Linked DNA regions of Homo sapiens: regions 1 and 3 are each linked to region 2. The links come from fine-mapping of genetic effects on gene expression. A gene starts in region 2. Each other region holds a variant in brackets. All regions are shown on one strand. Distances are from middle to middle. Region 1 has its middle 83 kb from the start of SDC1. Region 2 holds the start of SDC1 (syndecan 1). Region 3 has its middle 66 kb from the start of SDC1.

Evidence for each region. PIP is the estimated chance that this variant, and not a neighbour inherited with it, causes the effect. A credible set is the group of variants that fine-mapping cannot tell apart.
Region 1: its variant is the best candidate, but not a certain one, in a credible set for the expression of SDC1 in tibial artery (GTEx, PIP 0.85).
Region 3: its variant is the best candidate, but not a certain one, in a credible set for the expression of SDC1 in fibroblasts (GTEx, PIP 0.69).

What each region holds. Positions count from the first base shown.
Region 1 is chr2:20,137,685-20,145,863 of GRCh38, reverse strand. No RefSeq gene overlaps it. Among named protein-coding and RNA genes, the nearest start is that of SDC1, 83 kb to the left of the region's middle. RefSeq lists enhancers at 90-249, 4,001-4,585, 8,067-8,179. The variant G/A (reference allele first, on the strand shown) is at 4,224.
Region 2 is chr2:20,221,519-20,229,695 of GRCh38, reverse strand. It overlaps SDC1 (syndecan 1), which reads left to right and starts at 4,566. Exons shown (of 5, transcript NM_002997.5): 1 at 4,566-4,894. The coding sequence starts at 4,829. RefSeq lists enhancers at 3,239-3,918, 3,919-4,598, 6,358-6,864, 6,865-7,372 and silencers at 4,150-4,529, 4,590-5,009, 5,050-5,109, 5,130-5,589, 6,000-6,199.
Region 3 is chr2:20,154,960-20,163,138 of GRCh38, reverse strand. It overlaps the pseudogene RPS16P2. Among named protein-coding and RNA genes, the nearest start is that of SDC1, 66 kb to the left of the region's middle. RefSeq lists a silencer at 5,480-5,569. The variant A/G (reference allele first, on the strand shown) is at 4,544.

The DNA.
Region 1 (8,179 bases), 84 kb after region 2:
TCCTCCAGCTTCCGGATCACTGGGAGGTGCTGCTGTCGTGGCTTTTTCCCTCCATTTGTCAGGCTCACAGGGCTTGTCAGGTGAGATATACACTTGTCCCACCCAGCCCGAGGCCAGAAAACTGGGTGTGTTTGGCTGTGAGCCCAGTGAGAGTGGGCCATCTCTGAGCGTGGGTGCTTCTCTTCCCAGAGTCTGGCATCCACAGACAGTGTTGGCCAGGCCTGCCCACAGTGTTGACTGGCATTTGGACTGGCACCTTCAATGTCCCCTGACCCCCCAGTGCAGAAAGCACTGGCCTAAGGACTGGAGCAGGGGAAGGGAAGATGCAGACCATCCGTCCTCCCACCCCCCACACCAGGCTGTGCTCCCTATCAGAATCCAGCAAAGCACAGAGGAGTGCCCTAATGCCAAACACAGGTCCACAGGTGGGGTGGGATGGCGGGAAAGGAGAGAAGCTGGAAAGAATGAACAGCTCCCACACTCAACATCCCCTTCCTTTTCCTTTTCTTTCCATCTGGGAAAATATATTTAATTCTCTCAAATGATCTCACAATATCAACACATAAGCACAGACCAAACTACCCACCCCTTGCATTCCCAGCGTCGGTGGTCCAGGAGGGAACTGACTGCAGAGACTGTTCCAGCCCCGCTCCTGCCATGCCCCTGAGTTGACAGGGAGAGGTCTCCCTAACCCAGGCAGCAGAGGACAAAATGTGGCAGTCTCTGGCCTGAATCCAGTAAGCAGTGCTCAATCCAGCCACCCCTAGGCTGCATGGCCTCAGGGCTGGGACTGGGGACGGGAAGTCTCAGTTCCTCCTAGCAAGAGAGGAATGCCCAACGCAAGAAGGAAATGCTTTGTGATAAATGTCCAGTGCTAGAGGCTGGGCTCTTTCAAGAAGTGAGTAATCTCAATGTTGTCATCTGGCGAATGGGTGTATGGCAAGTTTCCTGGTTCGGAACTTTTCTTTCTTTTTAATAAAAGTTGCCATCAGCTCCTTCTTTATCCAGCTGGTTAAGAACAGGTCTTCTTTGTTCAGGAAACTGTCCTTTGAGTGGTCCCTCTTGGCTATTCACATGTTAGGCTAGTGGGGCAAGGGGGAACTGGTTCCTGGGTGGCCTGAGGAGTGCAGGACCCTCTAGTCCCTACATGGAAGAGCAGGGAGATAATTTGCTTGGGGCCAAGGAACATCTGGGAAGAAAGAGATGAAGACAAAGACGTTTGCCGTGTTAAAGTTGGAATTTTCCTGATGAAGTTTGAGATGAAGTGCCCCAGGAATAGAATCCCCACAGCCCCTCAAGGGAATGGCACCAGGAAGAAAGGGGGTCAGAGTTGGTGACCAGGCTCAACCCCAGGGCCTCCATATTCCTGTGGCATGGAGTGTGGCTGAGGACAGAAGCCCTCCTGGGCTCAGCTCTACCAGGGCTGTGCGCTATTTGGGAGCCTGGCTAACCTTGGAAGTATGAGCTTACAAGAGCAGTGGCCTTGGAGCCCAAAGTTGGCACACCTCTGTGGACCACATAAGGGTCAGGACCAGTGAGGCAGGATCTCATCAGACTTTGCAAGACCATTTTCTTTAGAGACACATGGTACTGTGCAAGAAACAATGGAAATCAGGACCTCCTGACTCTCCAGTTTCTCTCTGATTGCCATTTGCAATCAGAATTACCTGTAGGACCAAGTTTGGCCCCAATTTCCTTGGGGGAGTGGGTGAGGAATAAGGGGTAAGAAGGGGTAAAGAGGCATGACTTCCTGTTAATATGGGCGTATGGGAGCTCAAGCAATTATTGAATAAATAAGAGGGATTACATTTGCACCCCAAACTGGGGAACTGTGCTTGCTTAGGAAAAAGCCCAGAAAGTTATACAACAAAAAGTTATTAGTCATTGCCTCCAGCTGGTAAGATATCAAGGGATGCCCTTCTTTTTCCTTTCTATATATCTGTATTTTCTGTTTTCTCCCCATGGTGATTATGAAGTGATTTGAGTTATTAAAAACACTTTACAGTAGCTCAAAAAAACTATTATTATGTAGAGGCCCCAAGAAAAAGCACATTATGTCTGCTTTCATTTATTCCAAGAGGTAGAGAAGAATATATTATGTTTTGGAAAGATTTTTCTTAATCCAAGTGGTTAAAAGAGAAAAGTTAGGTGCCTACTGATATGTGTTCAATTGCCTGGAAAAAAAATCAATTACATGGCAGTTTAACCTGCGGTGATGAGAGAGCCCAAGCCACACATGGACTCATTCAAGGGGCTGGGAAGACAAGATTCGGGTGGGGCAAGTCGTGAACAGGATTTTCAGGTCTCTATGGGGTTGCCCTAGGGTAGAGGGAGCCCAGGGCCTATCATGTGCAGAAGTTACAAGTGACCAAACCAAGCAGGCCATAAAAGGCAGGCATTTCCAGCAGCCTGGCAGGCACGTCCCTGAATGGAATGTCTTAGGAGATGCTGTAATGAAATGACCTCAAACTTCTATCAACAAAGATGTTTTGTCTGCTGGTTATTATGTCATCATCAACATGACGGGAAAGTCTGTGAGGATGAGGAATAAGGAGAGAAATGGTGGGACAACTGAGCCAGCCAAGAGACCCCTAAGAGAGAAGATAAGGAGGGCATGGCCCGTTTGAAAGGGTGGGTGTCCAGTTGGTGTAGACATGAAGAGATAGGGAGGTCTGGCTGGTGTAGAAATGGGAAGGCAGGGGGAGGGGAGGGTCACCTCAGAAACAGGAGCTTCGGGAAAGGGAGTGTGACATTCAAGCACTAGACCCTCTAATGCATACCTGCAAATTAGTGCCACCTCGCCCTAGGGGATGTGGGTGAGTGGAAAGTGAGCTGGATTTCATTCCTCCACTTGCTTCCTTGGCCATCTGCCCTTGTTCAGTAGACAATCCACACACATGTACCTGGGGGCCCAGGGCAGCCACAGCACAGTAATAAATGTGTTGTCAGTCTGCAAATCACCTCAGTCAGCAGCTGGGGTACAGGAGCAGGATGAGACCTCGGTGAGGAGGCCAGCCACCATGCATGGCATGGTAACAGTGCCCAGGGAAGCAGGCTGAGGTCCAGGGCAGAGTTCTAAGGCCAGTGGTGGGTTGGAATGAAAAGCAGGGAAACTGAGGCAGAATTCCTTTTGTATGGGCAGAGGCAAATGGAAGGGGTGGGTGACTTTGAGGCTCTCCATGTTCCCAGAGCACATCTTGGGCCACAAGGCTCATTCCAAGCCCTTCTGGAATAAGCTGCCTGCAGAAATCCTGCCTGTTTTGGCTGGGAGGGGTCCATAACATGGGTAAGCAGAGCGGGCTGTGGAGCCTCAGCGAACCCACCACAGGCCAGGACCAACAGGGCTGACCAGCTATGAGACCTGCTTACTGCTTTGGTTGTCCTTTATGGCAGTGGTGTTCAAATTTGAGCATGCATCAGAATCATCTGGAGGGCTTGAGGGATCCCAAAACAAAGTGTGTGATTTGGTAGGTCTCAGGTGGGGCCTGAGGATTTGCATTTTTTATTTCTCCCAAGTTCTCAGGTGATGCTTTAGAAACCACGTTCCAGGGATGCCTTATTTCTGAAGCCCAAGGCTTCCATGAAAACCTTGATTGCTTGTTCCTCCTTGATTTTCTTTTCAGCCCCAGAGCCTCAGAGGGTTCCCGTTAACAGTACCCCTCCAGGCTTCTCTGAGGTTGCAGCTCGATCTCATTTTCCTGGCAGAAATTGACACCTGTTTCTTCCCTTCTACTCTGGACTTTAAAGCAATGGATCTCTTAGAGAAAGAATTAGCCATGCCCCGATTTGGGTAGAGGGAGGGGCTGGGGGCCATCCCAGACCTCCTGTTGTCTCCAGTGCCTCAGCACCTATGGGGCAGCCCTGGACCCGGCGGAATCTGGAGATTGATTTCCAGGACCCTGCTGGGCAGGCGTAAGGGTAAGGGCTTAGTTACTGGCAGAGCAGCGATGATTTGCCCTAAGATCCTAACTGAGCCCTAAATCCTTTCATTAAAGTTCTAAATGAATCACAGCCTCTGAACTAGAACAAACGCCAGCGGGGCATCTCTCAGGTCTCAGTTTCCCCAGCTGTAAGTGAGGCTGCTCCAGATGTTCCCTGAGATAGCTTTTGGCTCTAGCATTCTTGATTCCGAGGAGGACAATGGGTCAGAGGAAAGAGAGGGCTCATCAGGGTTTGCTGGGAAAGGGGTGGAGCTGAAGGTGATGTCAGCCGTGGTGAGCTGG[G/A]CCTGGAAAAGCAGCGTGAGTCACCGGGCATGACGAGGGGCAGGATGGAGAGCCAGGGAAAGGCTTTAATGGGGAGTCATGTGGTCAAACCATCGACTAGGAGGCTGAGGCTGGCAGCCAGCTGGGGTTTGGAGCCAGAGAGGTTGCCTAATGTGCCATTCAGCCTCTTACCCATGGGGCAGGGGCCAGTGCATCATCCCGTGGCTCTGGCCTGGATGTGTTCAGGTTCTGGGCTCTGGAGAGCCATAGGCCCTTGTTGGGAGTGGCCATCCTAGAGGGATGGCTGCCAGGGCCCTGACCTAGCACCATGTGGGCATGGGACTTGGGCCTCTCTGTAACCCAGACCTGCAGCAAATTCCCTACCTGCAAGCAGCCTACCCAGCCTGACCCCCTCGGCCTGACTTTGGTCCTGGGGCTGCCTTGCTCATGTCCCTGTACCTCTGCTTGTCTCTCAGCCCCTCTGAGACAGGGACTGGGACTTGCCTGCTCTTGTAGCCCCCTGCACAGCCCAGCTTAGCACCGTGCTGGACTCCTCATGGGAACTGAGGGAACTATCCACCTCAATCCAAAAGCTACTTTGGAAAGAGACAGGGGCGGAGCTGAGGTCTGACCAGCCCTTCCCACCCCCATGCCTGCTTCTCACTTCTCTGTCATCTCTGCCTTTTGCCAAGACCCTTGGTGCTTTGTGCTGATGGTCACAACGCTGAGATGGGCAGCCCAAACCAGGACTCACAAAGCAGGGGAGATGCACCAATGCCAGCATCCCTTTGCTGACCCCTCTTCCTGGAGGGCACCGGGCTCCGGGCTGACACACCTCAGTTATGGTCTGGCTTGGCCACAGCTAGCTGTGTGTACACGAAGTCCCTCTTCTTCTCCAGGGCCGGCTTCCTCATCTGTAAATTAGGAGCAATTATTCTTGAGCTACTGGGTCACCTGACACAGAGAAGAGGCTCCACCGATGTTTCTATGATTGTTGTCATTAAAAAACATGACAGCCAGAGAGGTTGGCACCGGGGTGTCTGCCATCCCTCGTGTCCTGAGAGCAGGCTCAGCTGGGCCCAGCTGAGATACTGGAGCTGAGAGCCCTGGAGAGATACTGGTGGGTGGGTGGCTGTGCAGGCATCTTTGGGGGAACAGAGTGGGATATGGGGAGGGGGCCGGAGTCCAGGGGGACTCCCAGCCTAGCCTGGGCCATGGGTGGGTGAAGGCCATGCCCCCTCCGCAGGGGCTCTGATCAGGTGGGGGCAGGCTTGGAGGTTATTTGAGGGCACAGGAAATATCTGGAATCTATGAGAATGGGAACTCAGGTCAGAGGTCACCTCAAATTAAAATTGAAAAAGCCCTCTGTGTGAAGGGAATCAAAGGAGGTGAAGACGTTTGCTCTTCCGGAGTCTCCTGAACCCAGATGTTAGCGGTTAAAATTCCTGTGGGGCTAAACGGTGGGCACAGGGAGCCATCTTGGGGCCCGGCAGGGCAGGAGCCCAGGGAACAGTGTGCATTCTCATGTACCCTCCAGGACATTGCCCCAGGGATTATGAGCAGAGCGGGGCCTGTCCCTGCAAAGCCGGGTGCTGTGGGGGGATGGGCACTCTGGGGTCTAGGGCCTCCCGCGGCCCTTCACTCTGGGCTGGCTGCACCCTGGAATGAAACAGGATCTGGCATCCCTGCTCTAGTCTGAGCCAGGACAGCTCATTAGCTGGAGGGCCGTGCTCCTTCAGATTTATGGTCAGGAGCCCCTCATCTGAGGGCCAAGGTCTTTTGATCTGAGCCCAGGGGTAGGGGCAGGGGATTCCTGGGTCTTAATTGGCATCAGCTAGGCTGATGCTGACCAGGACTCTGTCCCAGGCCTCAGCCCGCAGCCCCAGCCCCCCAGGCTGATGCTTATTGGGGGTGGAGGGCTCTGGGAGGAAGACAGGCATGTGCGGAGTTTGTTCCTACTCTGCAGGGCCTCATGGGCAAAAATACCAGGAGGGAATGAACAGCTCAAAAGGATCCTCCCCTCAGCCGCTCCCCAGCCTTGACCCATCCCCGACCCTGATTCTTCCCTTTCCCACTCTGACCTCACCCCAACCAAGTGTCACATCCTATCTGGGGTGGGGCTGGGGGCTGCCATGTACCTGGGCCTGTGCCAGGCACCTTGAGGACACAAGGAAAGTCTAGCAGAAAAGTCAGCTATATACACAACTAGAAAGAATAGATAAAATAATAGGCTGTGCTTTTGATATCTTGGACTTCCCCAGGTCAGGGATGACCATTTACATGAGGGATTTATTGTGTCTTGTTCTTTTGTTTTCGGGCTTAAGGAGGAGTGAGGAAGTATACTCAGGGGATACTTACTTAGAGAGAGAAAGATATTAGGGAGAAGAAGGGGAAGGGAGGAGAGGAAGGGAAGAAGACATTGAGACAGAGGCAGACAGAGAGTGAGACAGGAAAAGAGATTGTCAATCCTGAATCCAGCTGTGTCTCAACCTAGCTGACACGTCCTGGACTTCTCAGGAATGTGGCCCAATAAATTTCCTTTGGGCTCAAGCTAGATGGAGCTGGGCCTCTCTCCTGAACAGTGTGGGCGAGCCACACAGTCAATGGCTGCATTGGTGAATGTGTGCGTTTATTCCAAAGGAGAGGGCAGAGGGAAGGAGAGAAAATGGGACAAGCCTTCTGCCCTCAGAAGCTGACCTTAAGTTAAGGAGCCAGCACTCCAACATGAAAGCCACTGGGAGATGCTATCATTCCAGAGGCAGAGGAGGAATGGGGACAGAGAGGGCAGCAGCAGAGAGCAGAAGGACCGGGCCCAGAGGAATGGGAGAAAGCTTTGTCTTGGTAGCCTGCAGAAGGCTCTGGAAGCAAGCAGAGGAGAGAAACTCCACTGCATAAGAGCCTGGTGACTCAAGAGGGGCCGGGCGCCTTCCCCGTCCTGGGCCAGGAGAGATAAAATATCATCTCATTAAAGGATAGCTTCTTATTATTTATGAAAGATGCGTGTGAGCTTTTTTTTCAGGTAGAGCCCGGGGGGATGAGGATATCAGATAAGGGACCAAGGTCAGGTAATTCAGGCAGCGTACAAATGCACTAAGACTTGAGTGCACTATCTGTAGTCTATTTAAAGCCAGCTCTTCTATGATGCCCTGGTACTGTATTTCTTCAAATTCTCCCTCATTTTTTCTGGTCACTCAGTTTCTTATTTCTTTTAAGGACTGAGCCTTTCTTAAGCGTTTCCTAGGGAGATGACTCTTCCCTCGTGTATCTGGCCAGGCAATATGGGTCACTTCCCAGATCATAGTTTCCAAACTGGAAGGTCTTTACTCTGCCAGCTTCGTTATGGTGTAGTTTGCATACTGTAGAATTTGCTTGTTTTACGCATACAGTTTGATAAGCTCTGCCAAATGGAAATAGCCACCTACCTACCATCAAATGAAACATTGATTTTTTTTATCCCCCCATAAAATTCCCTCATTCCCCATTGCAATCAATCCCCGCTCCCACATCCCACCTCAGGCAAGCCCTGACCTGCTTTCTGGCTGCAGCGTGGCCCTCCCTGGAGTTCAGACGCAGGGAGCGGCGGAGTCTGCAGCCTTTTGAGTTAGGCGGCTTTCATTTAACTGCTGAACTTCAGCGCAGTGCCTTGAGAGTCATCCATGTCATTCATTGTATTACTATTTTGTTCTTCCTTATTGCTGGGGTCATTCCATCATACGGGTGCCCTACAGTTTGTCCATCCACCAGTGATTAATGTTTTTGGAGAGAATGAATAAGGCAGGAGGAGGGCAGCGGGCGTCTGTCCCACACCTAGGGGACCTGTTTACTCTCACCCTGCCCCGAAGGGGTTGCGAGGGAGGGAGGCCAGAGCCTGACCCCATACACAGGACAGTGACAGTTACAAGGCCCAGCACTATGGGAACTGGAGGGTTGGGGGTCAGAAGGGACATCCTGGCCAGCTTTAATAATAAGAGCCACCA
Region 2 (8,177 bases):
CCTCCCTTCCTTCTTTTTTCTTTCTTTCCTTCCTTTCCTTCCTTTTTTCTTTCTCTTCCTTTTTCCTTTCTCTCTTTTCCTTCCTTTCTTCCTTCCTTCCCTCGTTCTCTCTTTCCTTCCCTTCCTTCCTTCCTTCCTTTCTTCTTTCTTTCTCTCTCTGTCTCTTTCTCTCTTTCTCTCGAGTGCAGTAGCACAATCTTGGCTAACTGCAACCTCTGTCTCCCAGGTTCAAGGGATTCTTGTGCCTCAGCCTCCCGAGTAGCTGGGATTATGGACATGTGCCACCACACCAGGCTAATTATTGTACTTTTAGTAGAGATGGGGTTTCACCATGTTAGCCAGGCTGGTCTCGAACTCCTGGCCTCAAGTGATCCATCCACTTTGGCTTCCCAAAGTGCTGGGATTATATGCATGAGCCACCGCACCCAGCCAGGATACCATTTTCATGGAAGACACTGAATCATGCTTCCTGGAACTGGGTAATGCTCCATCTCTAGACATATTTATCAAATAAATGAACTATACTCCACTCTCCTCCTCCAAAACAAAAAAGTTATTCCCATAGACAAAGGGTTCCTAGGCCTCCCTAGGATGATGGGCACCATGAGGTGATAAAAGTGGTCCCTTACGGGGATCGCTTTGGGGAAGTAGATACTCTGATTTGGATGTGTAAATTCCAATGATATCTACAAAAGGTGTATTATTCTCTCTCTTTCCTGCTATCAAATATTAGAGGCAACTTAGAAGGCAAGGGAAATTATAAGTTAGAAAGGGACAGTCAGCACAGGGGCAAGGCAGGTTTGAGGTTGAGAGCAGAGAAGCAGGACATAAAGTCCAATCCACTTGCTGCACACTGAATCCCCAGATGATTTGGAGCTGCCAAAGCACGAAAGTGCAGACACACTTGGTTACATATTTCTCAATATCTAAGAATGAACATATGGCCAGGCACAGTGGCTCACGCCTGTAATCCCAGCACTTTTGGAGGCCGAGGTGGGTGGATCTCCTGAGGTCAGGAGTTCGGGACCAGCCTGACCAACATGGTGAAACCCATCTCTACTAAAAATACAGAAGTTAGCCAGGCATCGTGGCGGGTGCCTGTAATCCCAGCTACTTGAGAGGCTGAGGCAGGAGAGTCACTTGAAGCCAGGAGGCGGAGGTTGCAGTGAGCCGAGATCATGCCATTGCTCTCCAGCCTGGGGGACACAGCGAGAGTCCGTCTCAAAAAAAAAAAAAAAAGGATGAACATATTCGTTCCTTAGACGAAACCAAAACTTTCCACTGCTTCTAGGTCTTCATGTCTCACAACAGACCCAAGGACAGCTCCGCAGCCGTGGTGGGTGAGGGGCTTCCTCTGGAGTCCCCCGATGGCACTCAGGGCCATGCCCCTGCACTGGGACCCAGTGAGAGCCAATCCTACGGTGCATTAGAGGAGACATACGCCAGTGTGGCCTTCAGACAGTTCTCTGAAAAACCTCTCCAACATGGCTCCTTCTAGCCTACACCTCTTTTTTGGGCAGGAATTGTCCCCAAACTTAACATACAGTCTGGGGCTGGGAAACTGGCTGGGCTGCCTCCTAGAGGCTCTTTGTAGCAGCATCTTCAAAGCCATTCCTCTCACCGTCCTCCTGAGGCACCTCTTCTTCCTTTTTCCAGTTGTCCTCCCCATACTCTTCTGAGATGATTCACTTAGTCTTATACAGAAGAATGAATTCATCAGTGTATTTTTAGGATTAGAATTGCTGGCAAGTGAGAGAAAATTCAGAGAAACAGTGTCCTAAACAAACAAAAAGAGACATTTTCCCATCATGTATAAGTCTGCGTGGGCAGTCCAGGGATGACGCTATACTCCATGGGGCAGGGACCCATGCTTCCTTTAACTTGTTCCTCTGCTGTGGATGGCCTCTGTTCCCATGTTCACTTCATGGTCCAAGAAGGCTGCTTCAGAGGCAGCCATCAGATCTGTATTCCGCCCAGGAGAAAACAGAAAAGGGAAGGAGAGCATGCTTGACACCTTTCTGAAAGTGCATGTACCACTTCTGCTCATGTGCCACTGGCAAGACCCTAATCATGTGGCTACGCGTGGCTGTAAGAGAGGCAGGGAAAGGTAATCTTTATTTTAAATAGCCATAAGCCCAATTGAAATTTAAGGAATCTCTTACTGAGAAAGAGGAAAACAGATGTGATAAGTAAACAGAAGTGTCTGCCCAACCAGTCGGCAACTAAAGGCTTCAGCAAAACATTTCCTAATGGGAAGGATGGTCAGACTCAAACAGCAATAAGATATAATTTTACTTGCATCAGCTGGCAAAATATAAAAGGCCCAACACCAAGTCATAGGAGGATGTAGAAAAATGGAAATGCTCATAACTGCTGTTGGGAGTGTAAATTACTATAAGCCCTTTGGAGAGCAATTTGCTTAGAGCAATTGCTTACAACAATTCCTGAGAAAGTTGAAGATGTTTATACCTATAATCCAGAGCTCTACTTCTAGAGAAAGCCTCACACATGCACTCAAGAAGACAAGTATAAGGGCCAGGCACGGTGGCTCACGCCTGTAATCCCAGCGCTTTGGGAGGCCGAGACGGGTGTATCACCTGAGGTTGGGAGTTCAAGACCAGCCTGACCAATATGGTGAAACCTTGTCTCTACTAAAAATACAAAATAAATAAATAAATAAAAAATTAGCCGGCCTGTGGTGGCGTGCGACTGTAATCCCAGCTATTTAGGAGGCTGAGGCGGGAGAATTGTTTGAACCCGAGAGGTCGAGGCGATTCTCCCTGCCTCAGCCTCCCGAGTAGCTGGGATTATAGGCACCTGCCACCATATCCGGCTAATTTTTGTATTTTTAGTAGAGATGGGGATTCACCGTGTTAGCCAGGCTGGTCGAGAACTCCTGACCTCAGGTGATCTGCCCGCCTCGGCCTCCCAAAGTGCTGGGGTTACAGGCGTGAGCCATCGCGCTTGGCCGTGAGTGACTTTTAAAAAATGAAAAGACTCCATCAAATCCTCCCTGACCCCAGTTTCCTCTGTTGTGAGCAGTAGAGAAAGGTAAGATTCCAAAATTCCTATTTTTCCACCATACTGGGTTGAAGGGATCTGTGGAGCCACCCTCTGGTAGAGGTAGAACCTTCGAAAAGGGCATTTTTAATCCACAGGGACTCCTCGAGCTCGGCTGGACCTCCGTGGTGCCGTGCTGTGAGACCATCCATCACTCAGGCACTCAGCGAGCCCACATCGGCCCCCAAGAACCCTGATGAAGGTCTTCCTGCCCCCTAGACAGACTTGGGGAGACGGACACCCCAAAAGCGAGAGCTCTTTGAGGTCAAACAGGTGCTCAGGAGCAGGGGTACAAGCAGGCCATCATCTTTTAGTGCTGTGAGGAGGAGTGGGGGGATGAGATGGGGACGCAGGAGGCTGCTCGGCTCCAGAGCCTGCTCCACGGTGGAAGGTGGAGGAGAGTCCAGGGTCCCACGGTCAGTCCCTGCGTGGCCCAGGAAGGTTTAATTCTTTTAAAGAGGAACACTGGACACTTCCCGATATTTTCTTGGTCCCCAGCTCAGGCCGACCCAAGTTCTTGCCTTCCGCCTAGGGAAGACAGGGGAGGACGACGCCATCTTTGGTCTCAGGGCCCAGGTGCGAAGGTCGTTTGGCACCATCTCTCCTGCCTGCCAGATGTGGGCAGGGCCCGTCCGGTTCTTCCCCTTTGCTCTCTCGGCCGTTTCCCCTACACCCGCAGGCCTTCCACAGCTTTTTGAACTGAGGCCCAGGGCCTCGCAGGGGATCTCGAAGGAGCAGCAACTGCACGGTGCTCCTCAGATCCGCGTGCCCGAGGTCACCGGGGAACAAAGAAGTTACTTATTTTTCCTTTTAGCTCAGATGAAGAGAGAGGGCGTTGTCTTCCACAGAAAAACGCTGCGAACTCCGCCCCCGTCCCCCTTTTTCTTGCAGCCCTTCCGTGCGGGTGCAGCTGTTTAAACTAAGGCCCCAAGTCTCCAGCACTTTGTGGAGTGCAGGAAGAACGCGAGCGTACGGGAGAATCTGGGCCGGCGGGGCGCAGCGAGCCGCATCGCAGCTGGAGGACAGCCGGGGTGTGTCTGTGTGTGTTTGCCCGTCGGTTGAAGGCCCCATCGCCCCCGGGTCCCCGCCCTGCCCCAGAAAGCGTTCCCCAAGAGAGCTAGGAGTCCTGCGCACCTGGAGCGCGCTCCGCGTCCACGCCCAGAGGGCGCTGCACACTCGCGCCCGAGGACTGCCTGCCCCCCTTCAGCCCCTCTCCCGGGCTGCGCCTCCGCACTCCGGGCCCGGGCAGAAGGGGGTGCGCCTCGGCCCCACCACCCAGGGAGCAGCCGAGCTGAAAGGCCGGGAACCGCGGCTTGCGGGGACCACAGCTCCCGAAAGCGACGTTCGGCCACCGGAGGAGCGGGAGCCAAGCAGGCAAGAACCTTAGGAGCGGGCCGGGGGTGGGGCGTTCCGAAGGGGCCGGGAGGGGTGGCTGGGGGGCGGGGTCCTGGGGGGTGTGGACTGGGGCTGGCCGGGAGACCTGGCGGAGCTGGGGGTGGGGGGCCAGTTTTTGCAACGGCTAAGGAAGGGCCTGTGGGTTTATTATAAGGCGGAGCTCGGCGGGAGAGGTGCGGGCCGAATCCGAGCCGAGCGGAGAGGAATCCGGCAGTAGAGAGCGGACTCCAGCCGGCGGACCCTGCAGCCCTCGCCTGGGACAGCGGCGCGCTGGGCAGGCGCCCAAGAGAGCATCGAGCAGCGGAACCCGCGAAGCCGGCCCGCAGCCGCGACCCGCGCAGCCTGCCGCTCTCCCGCCGCCGGTCCGGGCAGCATGAGGCGCGCGGCGCTCTGGCTCTGGCTGTGCGCGCTGGCGCTGAGCCTGCAGCCGGCCCTGCCGGTGAGTGCGGCCGGCGGCCAGGCGGGGAGGCGGCGGGAAGCCGGGACTGGTCACCCGCGGATGCCGGCGGGTGCACGTGGAGGGGGAGGGGGAGCGAAGACTTCCCTTCTTCCCGCGCTAGCCCAGCGGGTCCCGGGACGGTGAGCCCCGAGACCAGGGCTCCAGCCCCAATTTCCTCCGCTGTCGGTGGGTGCCGCACCGGTCCCGCGCTGGGGAGGGTGGGGGGCCGGGGCCCCGCGCTCAATTATGTAAAACGTCTCCACATCTGTCGGAGCCCGCCAGCCCACAGCGGCGCCCGGGGTCGCCCGTTCCCACCCTCCTCGCCCCGGCCACCGCGGCGGCCGGGCCCCCGTCGGTGACCCGGGGGGATGCAGTGACCGCGGCCACAACGCCCCCCCTGCAGACCCTAATTCAAACCAGACCCGCGGGCTTGCGCCCCAGCGCCGCCGAGCCCGGGCGCCCCGCCCCTTGCGCCAGGGCAAGTTTGGGCGCAGCGCGGCCGGCGCGGGAGCGGGAGGCGGCCGCGTTGGCCCGGGGAGCCGGGCCAGGGCTGCGTGGGGGGCGCGGGCGAGCGTCTGCAGGGCCCTCGGGCTTGCCGTGGGCGGCTCGAGGTGAGCTGAGCCGGCCCGGCAGCGGGAGGTTCCGGGAAGTTGGCCTCGGAACGCTGGAGACCCGGAGGAGCCCAACTTCTGGGCTGCTGAAGTTGAGCTGGCCCCGGAGGGCGCGTTCCCGTGCCGGGCACGGCCGAGGCGCAGGCGCCTTCCACGCGAGGGGACCCGGGAATGGCCTCCCGCTCCCCGGCTCGGCTTTGTGCTGAAGCCGCGCGGAGGGAAGGCGGGTCCCTTGGCCCGCCCAGTGCAGCTGGGAGAAAAGAGGGGCAGATGTGGAGCTCGGGGCTGTAAGAGGCCTTTGGGTGGGATGCAGCATCCACCTTCAGCGGGGCTGACGCTCCACTAAAGAGGGACGTGGCCGACAAAGAGCAGCCTGAGGGTCCCCAGAAAGTGGCTCTCCCGCCCCGGCCACCGGCCGCTAGCCCGCCTTCCCCAATGGGGGCGCTTTGTTCTCGGCCCCTGTAACCCTTTCCTGGGAACAGCCCCGTAACGCCGGCCTTGACGGGGGCTGGGACCTGGGCCGCAGCCAGGTGTCAGCGCGGGCCGCCCGGTGCCCGAGTCTGCCGCCCGAGTTCGCCTCCCCAGCCCCCGCGCCCGGTGCTGGCGTCCCGGGGTCCCTCCTGCGGGCCGGCTCGGCCATCCCCAGGGATGCAGAGGGGAGGTGCGGAGCCAGGGGCGCTTCCCCTTCCGGAAGTGGCGGTGTCTCGCCACTACATCTGGACAGTTCGACTTCCCCAGCTCTGGCAAAGGGAGGCACGTGGGCAGGGAAGGGGCGGGGGCGGGGTGGGCACTCGGGTTCTCCACTGCTAATGTGGCATCTGGACAAGTCTCAGCAGCGCTGACCCTCCGTAAGCGTTGCCTCGTGTAGTAGCTGCCAGTTATTGAGCGCTTTGGTTTTTTTTTTCTTTACAGAGTCTGTCTCATGGGAGATGAGGTAGGGACAGTCGTTTCTGAGACCGATGTGTAAAGCGCCCTCCCTGCTTCCCAGGTGACTCGTGCTTCCAGACATTTTCCGGTCCAGGAGAGGTCCCTGTGCCTATTGAACTGTGAATGGGCTGGACTGTGAGGGGTATCTGGGAGCACGGGGAGGGCCATGATTTCCGAGCTGGGTCTCATGCACTCCTGGCTTTCAGGTCCAAGAAGCTGCTCTCTAGGGTGGTGGTTTCTGTGGAACTGAGACTGTGCTTGGAGTCTTCGCTCCGAGTTTGGAGAAGAGAATGGAGCTGGGTGCCTTACCTCCCTGGACCGCTGGGCATCACCTCACTGCCCCATTCTCGCACATGATGGGGCCTCAGCAGGGGCGGCTGAAGTTGGGTCCTCCACCTATTTCCGGCTGGATTTAGGAGGGCTGCTGGTTCCCTTGCCTGCCTGGGGTAAAGCAGACATTCCAGAGCCCTGGGATCCCACCGCACCCGTTAATGCTGGGGAGGCAGGTGGAGTTTGGGCTTCCCCGTGAACTGCCTTTCCTGGAGTTTTCTGTGGGCTGGGGCAGATGCTGCAGTGTGAGGCATTATTTCTTGCCCAGAAACTTGGACATAGGGCCCAGGAGGCAGGAGAGTCTCAAAAGGGGAAAGGAGGGAGACTCCCTGGAGCTGCAGGGAGGGAAGGCTTCCTGGAGGAGGTGCTTGAGCTGAGCCTGAAAGCCCCACCTGAGCTTTGGGGTCAGACTCTGGCTTGAAGCTTAGGTGTTCTTTTTGCTTTTTCTGATCTTACAAAGATTAGTTTGTTTTCTCTTTCCCAGTTCTGCCCTCTTCCTCTTACAGTGAATGTCCATGTTAGGTTAAAGGTGGGGGCATGCACTGCCTTCCCAAAGCTCTGATACCCCTTTCCTAAAAGAAATCAGGCAGCTGGGATTTGCTTTAAGATGGGAGAAGGTATTTGCAAGTGGCAGAGATCTGACCCTCTCTGAAAGTTCACTCTGGCCCCAGTGGGAAGCAGGTCAGAAACCCCCTGGGGACCAGGGAAGCAAGGAGTGACTGAATGGGTGAGGGGAGGCTGCTAGGAGAGGAGGTTGCTCAAAACCACTCCCAAGAGACTAAAACAGGTTTGTCTAAAAAGGTTTCTCTCTCTCTTTCTCTCTGTGTGTGTGTGTGTGTGTGTGTTTACTGTGGTCTTTTGTTTCTGCCATGTAAGAAAAATGGCTTGTTCTGGAATAGTTATTTGCTATTTTTCATTCTTTCTCTCTTCTCTTTCTTGAAAGGCATAAAATCCCTTTTGCCCTAATTATGGGGGCTAGTAGAGACATTTTCCCACAGCCTGGCAGAGAGGGTATGGGGGGAGGCACTAGCTGCCTCCGCTCAGGCTCAGAGCCTTCTAGAAGTGATGTCATCCCTGGCTTCAGCTCTACAGGGAGGGTGGAGCGGTTTAAGTCTCTACCTGTGGCTCATGATGGGTTCCAGTAAAACCTCATTAACACACATTGGTAGGGAGACAGTAAGAAAGGAGAGAGCCTGGAAAGAATTAATGAAAAGCTTGACTTCTGCAGTTTTTTAGAGGAATCTTTTCTGTTGCAGCAGAATTTTGGATTCCTGAAATCCCTTGGGAATGAGGTGTCCTGTGTATTCATATTTTTTCATCAAGCTAAGAATCCCTATTACCCTCGAGTATTCTTACTCTGGGCATGACTCTCTGAAGTATTTATTTCCCTTCCTTTATCAACCAAAAAATGCTAG
Region 3 (8,179 bases), 67 kb after region 2:
GGCAAATTTGGGGGAAAAGAAAAAAGGGATGTATTTCTCACTATGTTATTTATCATTGTTTAAAGGTATGGCCATGTACTATATAAAATAATCTATCATACCACCCCAAATCTCCAGTGATGAGCATTCTACAATTTGGGGAACTTGGTAGAATTATTATCCCTATTTTGCAGTTGGGAAAATAGCTATGATCACAAAGCTAAGAAGCTAAATAATCTTCATTAGTACCAAACCCTGAATCTGCATGGTGCAACCGAAATGAGTATTTCAGGCAAAGAAGAGTAGGTGGGATTCCAGCCGTGAGTCTCCTTCTTTCTGAGGAACTCCCTCATCCTGCTTCCCACTGACACCTCTGCAAGATGCTGGCCCCAGGGTACCCATCCTGCCTCGCTTGGCCTCCTCACACAGGCTAGGTCTTTTACTGACACCATGATGAATCCTGAGTGAGATAAGCAAGGAAATAAACAGAGAAGCCAAGGATCACACACATGATAAACTCCCCTAGCTCACTTCTAACCCACAGATGTGATCTACAGCTCTCTTGCTCCTCAGGCTCCCAGACCATCCCACTCCGCACCCCACCTCATGTGCCTCCCAAACCACTGGCCCGACCCCTCAATTCCTGCTCTCTGGCCTGCCTCCCTGTAGAGGGTGTCATTATTCACCCTGGAACCTGAGGGCTGGTCTCCTTCATTCCTGAACCCCTTTGCTGCCCAAGCCAGGAATTTGGTTCTAACCAGTCTCCTCCATACTAATCTCTCACCTTGTCCTCAGGGAATGCTCAGCCACCTGACCCCCATCACCAAACCCATAGTTTAATGACCCTCTAATCTTTTAATGACCATAGCATCCATTTACCAAGTTGGGCTCTGCCTTGGTCACAGAGCCAGGCACTTGTCCCCCTGAAGAGAAAGGCAGACCTTGCCTGTGACAGACAAAGATGAAGCAGCGGGGAAATGGGGCTGTAGTTAGGTCTTCTTGGAGCCTCGCTGGGAGGCCAGGAACTGTCTGCTGGGTCCACACTCTGTAAGCCAAAGGGAGACCCTGCAGCTCCACTGTCTGCACATTCGAGAGCCTTCCCTGGAGTGGAAGCTTTCTGTGCCTGGCACTTGGACCTGGGGGACCCGCATTTGGCCCCAGGCTTCCTTCTCTGAGCTTCAGTCTCTTCTTCCACAAGACAGTTCAAACATTGCTTACCACAGAAGGTTCCTGAGTATCTCATGTGAACAGCTATGTGAAAGGCTGTGTTCCTATATGATAGTGACCAACTTGATATTATATGTTAACAAAATCCTCTGTACAGCACAATTAAAATTCACAAAATATTTAGTACCAGTCCTAAAAAGAAATGCAAGAAACTTACAAAGAAAACAGTAAAACTTAATGATGGACATAAAAGACCTAAATAAAGGGAGATATATATTCTACTACATTGGGAAATTTCAATATTATAAAAATATCCCTTATAAAATTATCTATAAATTTGGCGCAATCCCAACAACCATCTCACTGGAATTCTTCATTAAAATAGACAGATGATGATTAATATTCACATGGAAAAAATGCATAAGAAAAGACTTTTGAAAAGGAAGAACAGTAAAGGGGAACTTATCCTGCCAGATATCAAAACTATTAAAAATGTGGCCAGGCATGGTGGCCCCCACCTGTAATCCCAGCACTTTGGGAGGCCGAGGTGGGCAGATCACTTGAGGCCAGGAGTTTGAGACCAGCCTGGCCAACATAGCAAAACCCTGTCTCTACAAGAAATACAAAAAATTAGCCGGGCATGGTGGTGTGCACCTGTAATCCCAGCTACTCAGGAGGCTGAGGTACAAGGATCACTTAAACCCAGAAGGTGGAGGCTGCAGTGACCCGAGATGCCGCCATGCACTCCAGCCTGGGTGACAGAGCAAGATTCTGTCAAAAAAAAAAGTATTAAAAAGGTAAATTGAGGCACAACAAAATGTTAATAAGTTTATTTGAGTAGACAGAGATTTATGAATTGGGTTCCAAACCAGAAGTGGTTGGGAAGCTTCACTGAGGGACTACAAGAGGGAGGCTTTTATAGGATGAAAAGGGAAGTAAAGCAAAAAAAATTTGATTGGTTGTAGTTATACACTTGCCTTCTTTGGCTTATCCTGTTGGAAACTGTTCCCAGTTATATAAGTTTGTTGGCTGCTTCCGATTAGTTGAGCTTAAATTCTATTTTTCTTTGACATAGGCATTTGGGGCCAGGTATAGTGGCTCACACCTGTAATCCCAGCACTTCAGGAGGCTGAGGCAGGATGATTGCTTGAACCCATGAGATCGAGGCTGCAGTGAGCCAAGATGGCACTACTATACTCCAGCCTGGGCAACAGAGCAAGACCCTGTCTCAAAAAAAAAAAAGTATTTATAAGAAATGGCCCAGGTTAAGTTTCACTCATGTTTACAAATCAAACAAGGTTAAGGTCACTTATCCTAACTGCCTTTGTCTGTGTAGGGATTCTTCAGGTCTGGTCTCCATTTTAATTTACTTTAACAAAACATATTATGAAGTTAGAGAATTAAAAATAATATAGGATTAAATAGACAAATAGACCAAAGTAATAGGATAGTGAGTGCACAAACAGACCCTCGAATATGTAGAAACTTAGTGTATGATACAGTTGGTATTTCAGATGAGTGACAAAACATTCAATTAAATATTTTAGGAGAAACAACTGCAGAAAATGAAAGTCAAGTTTAATTTCTACTTCACACCAGTCATAATAATAAATTCCAGGTTACTTAAAGAACTAAATATATCTTTTTAAACTGCAAAAGAATTAGGATAAAATGTAGGAGATTGTTTTTGTGGTTTTGTGATAAAGCATATGAAGTAAATAATATATACACATACTTTTTTTGAAAAAGAAGAACTAAGTGGGAATTAGTCTACCCAATTCCAAGATGTTATATAGCTATGATAATTAGGACTGTGTGATATTGGTGGAGGGATGGAAGCATAAATCAATGGGAAAGGATGGAAAATCCAGAAATAGACCTACACAGATATGCGCAACCGAGTTTTGAAAAAGATGCAAACGCAATCCAATGGATGAAGGATAGCCTTGTAAACAAATGGTCCTGGAACCACTGAACATCCATAGGTAAAAGTGAACCTTGACCTAGACTCCAGGCTGTATAAAAAAATTAACTCAAAATGAATCACAAACATAAATGTGAAACCTAAAACTACAAAACTTTTAGGAAGAAAATACATGGGAGAAACATTTTTGTGGTTTTGGGCTAGACAGAGTTCTCAGCCTTGACACCAAAAGTATTATCCATAAAAGGAAACATCAATAAATTGGGCTTCATCAAAACTGAAAACTTTTGCTTTGTGAAAGACCCTGTACAGAGAATAAAAAGACAATCTAAAGATTGGGAGAAGATATTTGCAAAACACAGAGGACTAGAGCCTAGAATACATACATTTCTCTCAAAACTGAACAATAAAAAACAAAGAATCGAATTCAAAAATGGGCAAAAGACATGAACAGACATTTAGCCAAAGAGAGTGTACTCCTGGTACTCCTGGTTATAAGCACATGAAAAGATGGTCAACATCCTTAGCCATTAGGAAAGTGCCAAGACAACCACATGAGATATCAACACACATCTATCAAAATGGCTAAAATAAAAAATAGTGACAACATCAAATGCTGACCAGGATATGAAGAAATTGGATCACTTATACTTCGCAGATGGGAATGTAAAATGGCATAGCCACTGGAAAATCATTTGGAAGTTTCTTAAAAAACTAGGTGTGCAACTATCACAAGTCTTAACAATTGTACTTTTCAATGTTTATCCCAGGGATATGAAAACTTATGTTCACACAAAAACTTGTACAAAAATATCTGCAAACTGGAAACAACCCAGATATCCTTCAATGAATGAATGGTTAAGCAAATGGAGTGCAAGCACACCATGGATTACTTCTCAGCAATAAAAGGGAAGAAGCTATCGATACACAAAACCACCTGAATGAATCTTCAGGGCATTATGTTGGCTGAAAAAAAGTCAATCTCAAAAGGTCCCATACAGTTGATTCTATTTATATAACATTCTTGAAATGACAAAATTATAGAAATGGAGAGCAGACTAGTGGTTGCCAGAGTTAAAGAGGGGATGGCAGTGGACAAAGGAGTGGGGGAAAGAGAAGTGGGTGTGGTTCTAAAAGGGCAACACAAGGGCTCTTTGTGGTGGGGAAATCATTCTGTATCTTGACTGTATCAACGTCGAGTCCAATATCAGTGTCCTAGTTGTGATATTCCAAGATGTTACCATTGGGGGAAACCGGATTAAGGGAACATGGATCTTCCTGTATTACTTCTTACAACTGCATGTGAAGCTACAATTATCTCAAAATTAAGACTTTAATTTAAAAAACTACAAAAGAATTAGAAGAAAATATAGGATATTATTTTTATGAATTAGTGATAGGGAAAGCTTGTGCAATAAGGCACTTAATATAAAAGCATTAAGGAAGATATGAATAAATTTAACGACATCAAAG[A/G]GTACCATCAACATGACCCAGTGCAGTGGTTCACACCTGTAATCCCAGCACTTTAGGAAGCTGAGAGGGGAGGATTGCTTGAGTCCAGGAGTTGGAGACCAGCCTGGTCAATAGAGTGAGACCCTGTCTCCACAAAAAAAAAAAGCCAGGTGTAGTGGTGCATATGTGTGGTTTCAGCTACTTGAGAGGCTGAAGCGGGAGGATCACTTGAGCCCAGGAGTTTGAGACTACAGTAAGCTGTGATTGCACTACTGTACTCCAGCCTGGGTGACAGAGTGAGACTCTGTCTCTTAAAAAAAAAAAAAGACACCATCAACAAAATTGAAAACTAGCAACCAACTAAAAAAATTGTAATAATTACAATATACAAACAACATTCAAAATATGTAAAAATCTGCTATAAGTCAATATGAAAAAGTAAACAATGCTTAGGAAAACAGGAAAAGAATATGAAAGGAAAAATCACAAGAGGAGAGATTCAAATGGCCAAAAATCTATGGGAAGCTGCAATATCCCTGATAATAAAGGAAATGTAAATTAAAATAATGAAAAAACATTTTTTATTCGACCAGACAAGCAAAATAGTAAGTTTGATTGAATGTAGGGCAGATGAAGATGTGGGCAGTAGTCTCATATTCTGCTGATGGGAGTATCAATTGGTAAAGTCACTTTGGAGGGCAATTTGATAGAATCTATTAAAACTTCTATTTCCCTTATGATCCAGCAAATCTACTTCTTGGTGTACCTCTGGAGAAACAGTCATGTGTGCACGAGGCAGCAGGCAAAGAATCCTTGCTGCAGCTTTCTAGTAAAGAACTGGAAATGACCTAGCTGTCATCACTGGGGAATGGCTGAATAAACTCTGGTGCATCCATTCTGTGGAATACTGAACGTACAGCACACAGGAAAGACACAAAGCAAGTTGCTAAATAATACACAGAGAATGATAGACACCATTAATGTAAGCACACACACACACACACAACTTCTGGAGGTAATTTTCATTTTATATGCATAACCACAAACCTCAAATGGTCATGCAACACAGCCGGGTAATTCTAAAATGTTTCTCTACTAAGTTTCTTTTCTCTGTCTAAAATGATTATTTCGTACATTCTCGCTCTTCCCATCCCCCACATCCTCTCCCCACGTCACATCCAGCTGATGACCTTTCTTAACACTTCAACCAAAAAAACCCAGAAGCCCTCAGCCAGGGACAACTGTGCCTCCCACGATGAAATCGCCAATCCTCCTTGAATATGTGCCAACAACAATTTTCCCTCACCCTGCCAACCTCTCAGCCTCCCTCCTGCTCCTTTCAAAGGACAATCCCTTCACCTGCTATCACCTTGCTGAGGACTTTGCTCCTGCAATTATCCTCTCTCTCCTGCATCATTAGATTCCCCCTCCCTACTCTGTCATTCTTGTCAGTACACAAACATGCTCCAGTATTTCCCATATTCAAAAACAAATCTCCTTTCACACATACCTTTCTCACTATGTCTTTGCTCAATGGGGTAGACAGACAACTGTCCACCAAAAATCCACGGCCTCTTTGCACAGTGTAGTGCTGCTGCTGGCAGTGGCTGCCCAGCCAAGGACCACACTTCCTGGCTCCTTTTGCATACTCATGAGAACATGTGACTGAGGTCTGGATAACAGAATGTGGGCAGAAGTGGTGTACGCAACTTCCAGGTATGGCCCATAAAATTCTTCTACACGATCCTCCATATTCTCTTTCCTCTTCTGCCAGGTTGATGTTGACACCTAGGGCAACTAAGGGTGCTGTGTGTTGAAGAAGATGTCTAGGCCATAAGGTAAGTGCTTAGATCCCTGAATAACTGTATGGAGCAGAGCTCTATCCTCACTTCTCCCACTCCTATCACTGATTGGAATTTAAAAGAGAAGAAATAAACTTCTATTTAGTCAAGCTAAATAGATTTTGGTGGTTTATGTGTTACAACATCTGGCCTTATCTTAATTAATACACCATTTATAACAAGATTTCTCAAAAGGGTTGCCTCTATTTCCTGGAGCCAGATCAACCAGTTTTGTCTGGGTTCAAATTCCAGTTTTGTCATTTCCTAATGTGTGTGATCTTGGACAAATTACTTAAAGATCTATTCCTTATCTGTAAAATAGGATAATAATTGTACCTATCTCAAAGGGCTGTTGCACAGATTAATATATGTAAAGCACTTAGATCAGTGTCTGGCACATAGTAAGTTTTATATAAGTTCAGCTATTATTATCATGTTAAGCCACTCACGCCCATTCCAGCTCCCTTCTGTCTCCACCACTCTACTGAAACTGCTCTTGTCAAGATGGGCTCTATGCTGCAAAATGCAAATGTACATTTCTCTTGCCTCGCTTAATTCAACTCTCAGCAGCAACTGACACAGGTGTCCGCTGCCTCATTTAAAAAAGTATCATGGAAGATTGCAAACACACACAAATGTATTTCCTTTTTGAAATAATTTTCTTCCTTTTCTGGTTGCAGCTCTGTGCAGTGAGGATCTCTAATGTATGCCTGTAGCCATGCTGTCCAAGGGCCCACTGCAGTATGCGCAGGTCTTTGGATGCAAGAAAAGGGCCACAGCTGTGGCGCCCGGCAAACACAGCAATGGCCTCATCAAGGTGAATGGGTGGCACCTGGAGATGATCGAGCTGCATATGCTACAATACAAGCTGCTGGAACCACTTCTGCTCTGGGCAAAGAGCGATTTGCTGGTGTGAACATTTGTGTTCATGTGAAGGGTGGTAGTCATGTGGCCCAGATTTGTGCTGTCCATCAGTCCATCTCCAAAGCCCTGGTGGCCTATTACCAGAAATATATGGATGAGGCTTCCAAGAAGGATATCAAAGACACCCTCATCCAGAATGACCAGACCTTGCTGGTAGCTGGCCTCCTTCGCTGTGAGTCCAAAAAGTTTGGAAGCTCTGGTGCCTGTGCTCGCTACTAGAAATCCTACCAATAGGCCAGGCACAGTGGTGCACACCTGTAATCCCAGCACTTTGGGAGGCTGAGGTGGGCGGATCACCTGAGGTCAGGAGTTCGAGACCAGCCTGGCCAACATGGTGAAACCCTGTCTCTACAAAACTACAAAAATTAGCTGAGCCTGATGGCGGGTGCCTGTAATCCTGGCTACTTGGGAGGCTGAGATGGAAGAATCACTTGAATCTGGGAGGTGGAGGTTGCAGCGAGCCAAGATTGTGCTATTGCATTCCAGCCTGGGCAAGAGAGTGAGACTCCATTTCAAAAGAAAGAAAGAAAGAGAGAGAGAGAGAGAGAGAGAAGAAAGAGAGAAAGAAATCCTAGCAATAAGCTCATCACAAGGATCAGGATTAACTTGTATAATAAACGATGTTTGAGGGATTTTTAAGTTTCAAAAAAAAAAGAAAAAAAAGAATTTTCTTCTTGGATGTTATGATTTTTCACTCTCTTCAGCCTCTTCACCCCACTTCTCTGGCCATCCCTTCTCAAGGTCCTCTGCTGGCTCCTCCTGCTCTTCTCAACCTCTAAATGTTGGTATGTCCTGGGCTATATTGAATGTCCTTCTGTAGCCGTATTTCCTTCCTGGATGATCATGAAATATCGTGAGGACTCCCACTGTTCTATATCACATCCCACCTCTT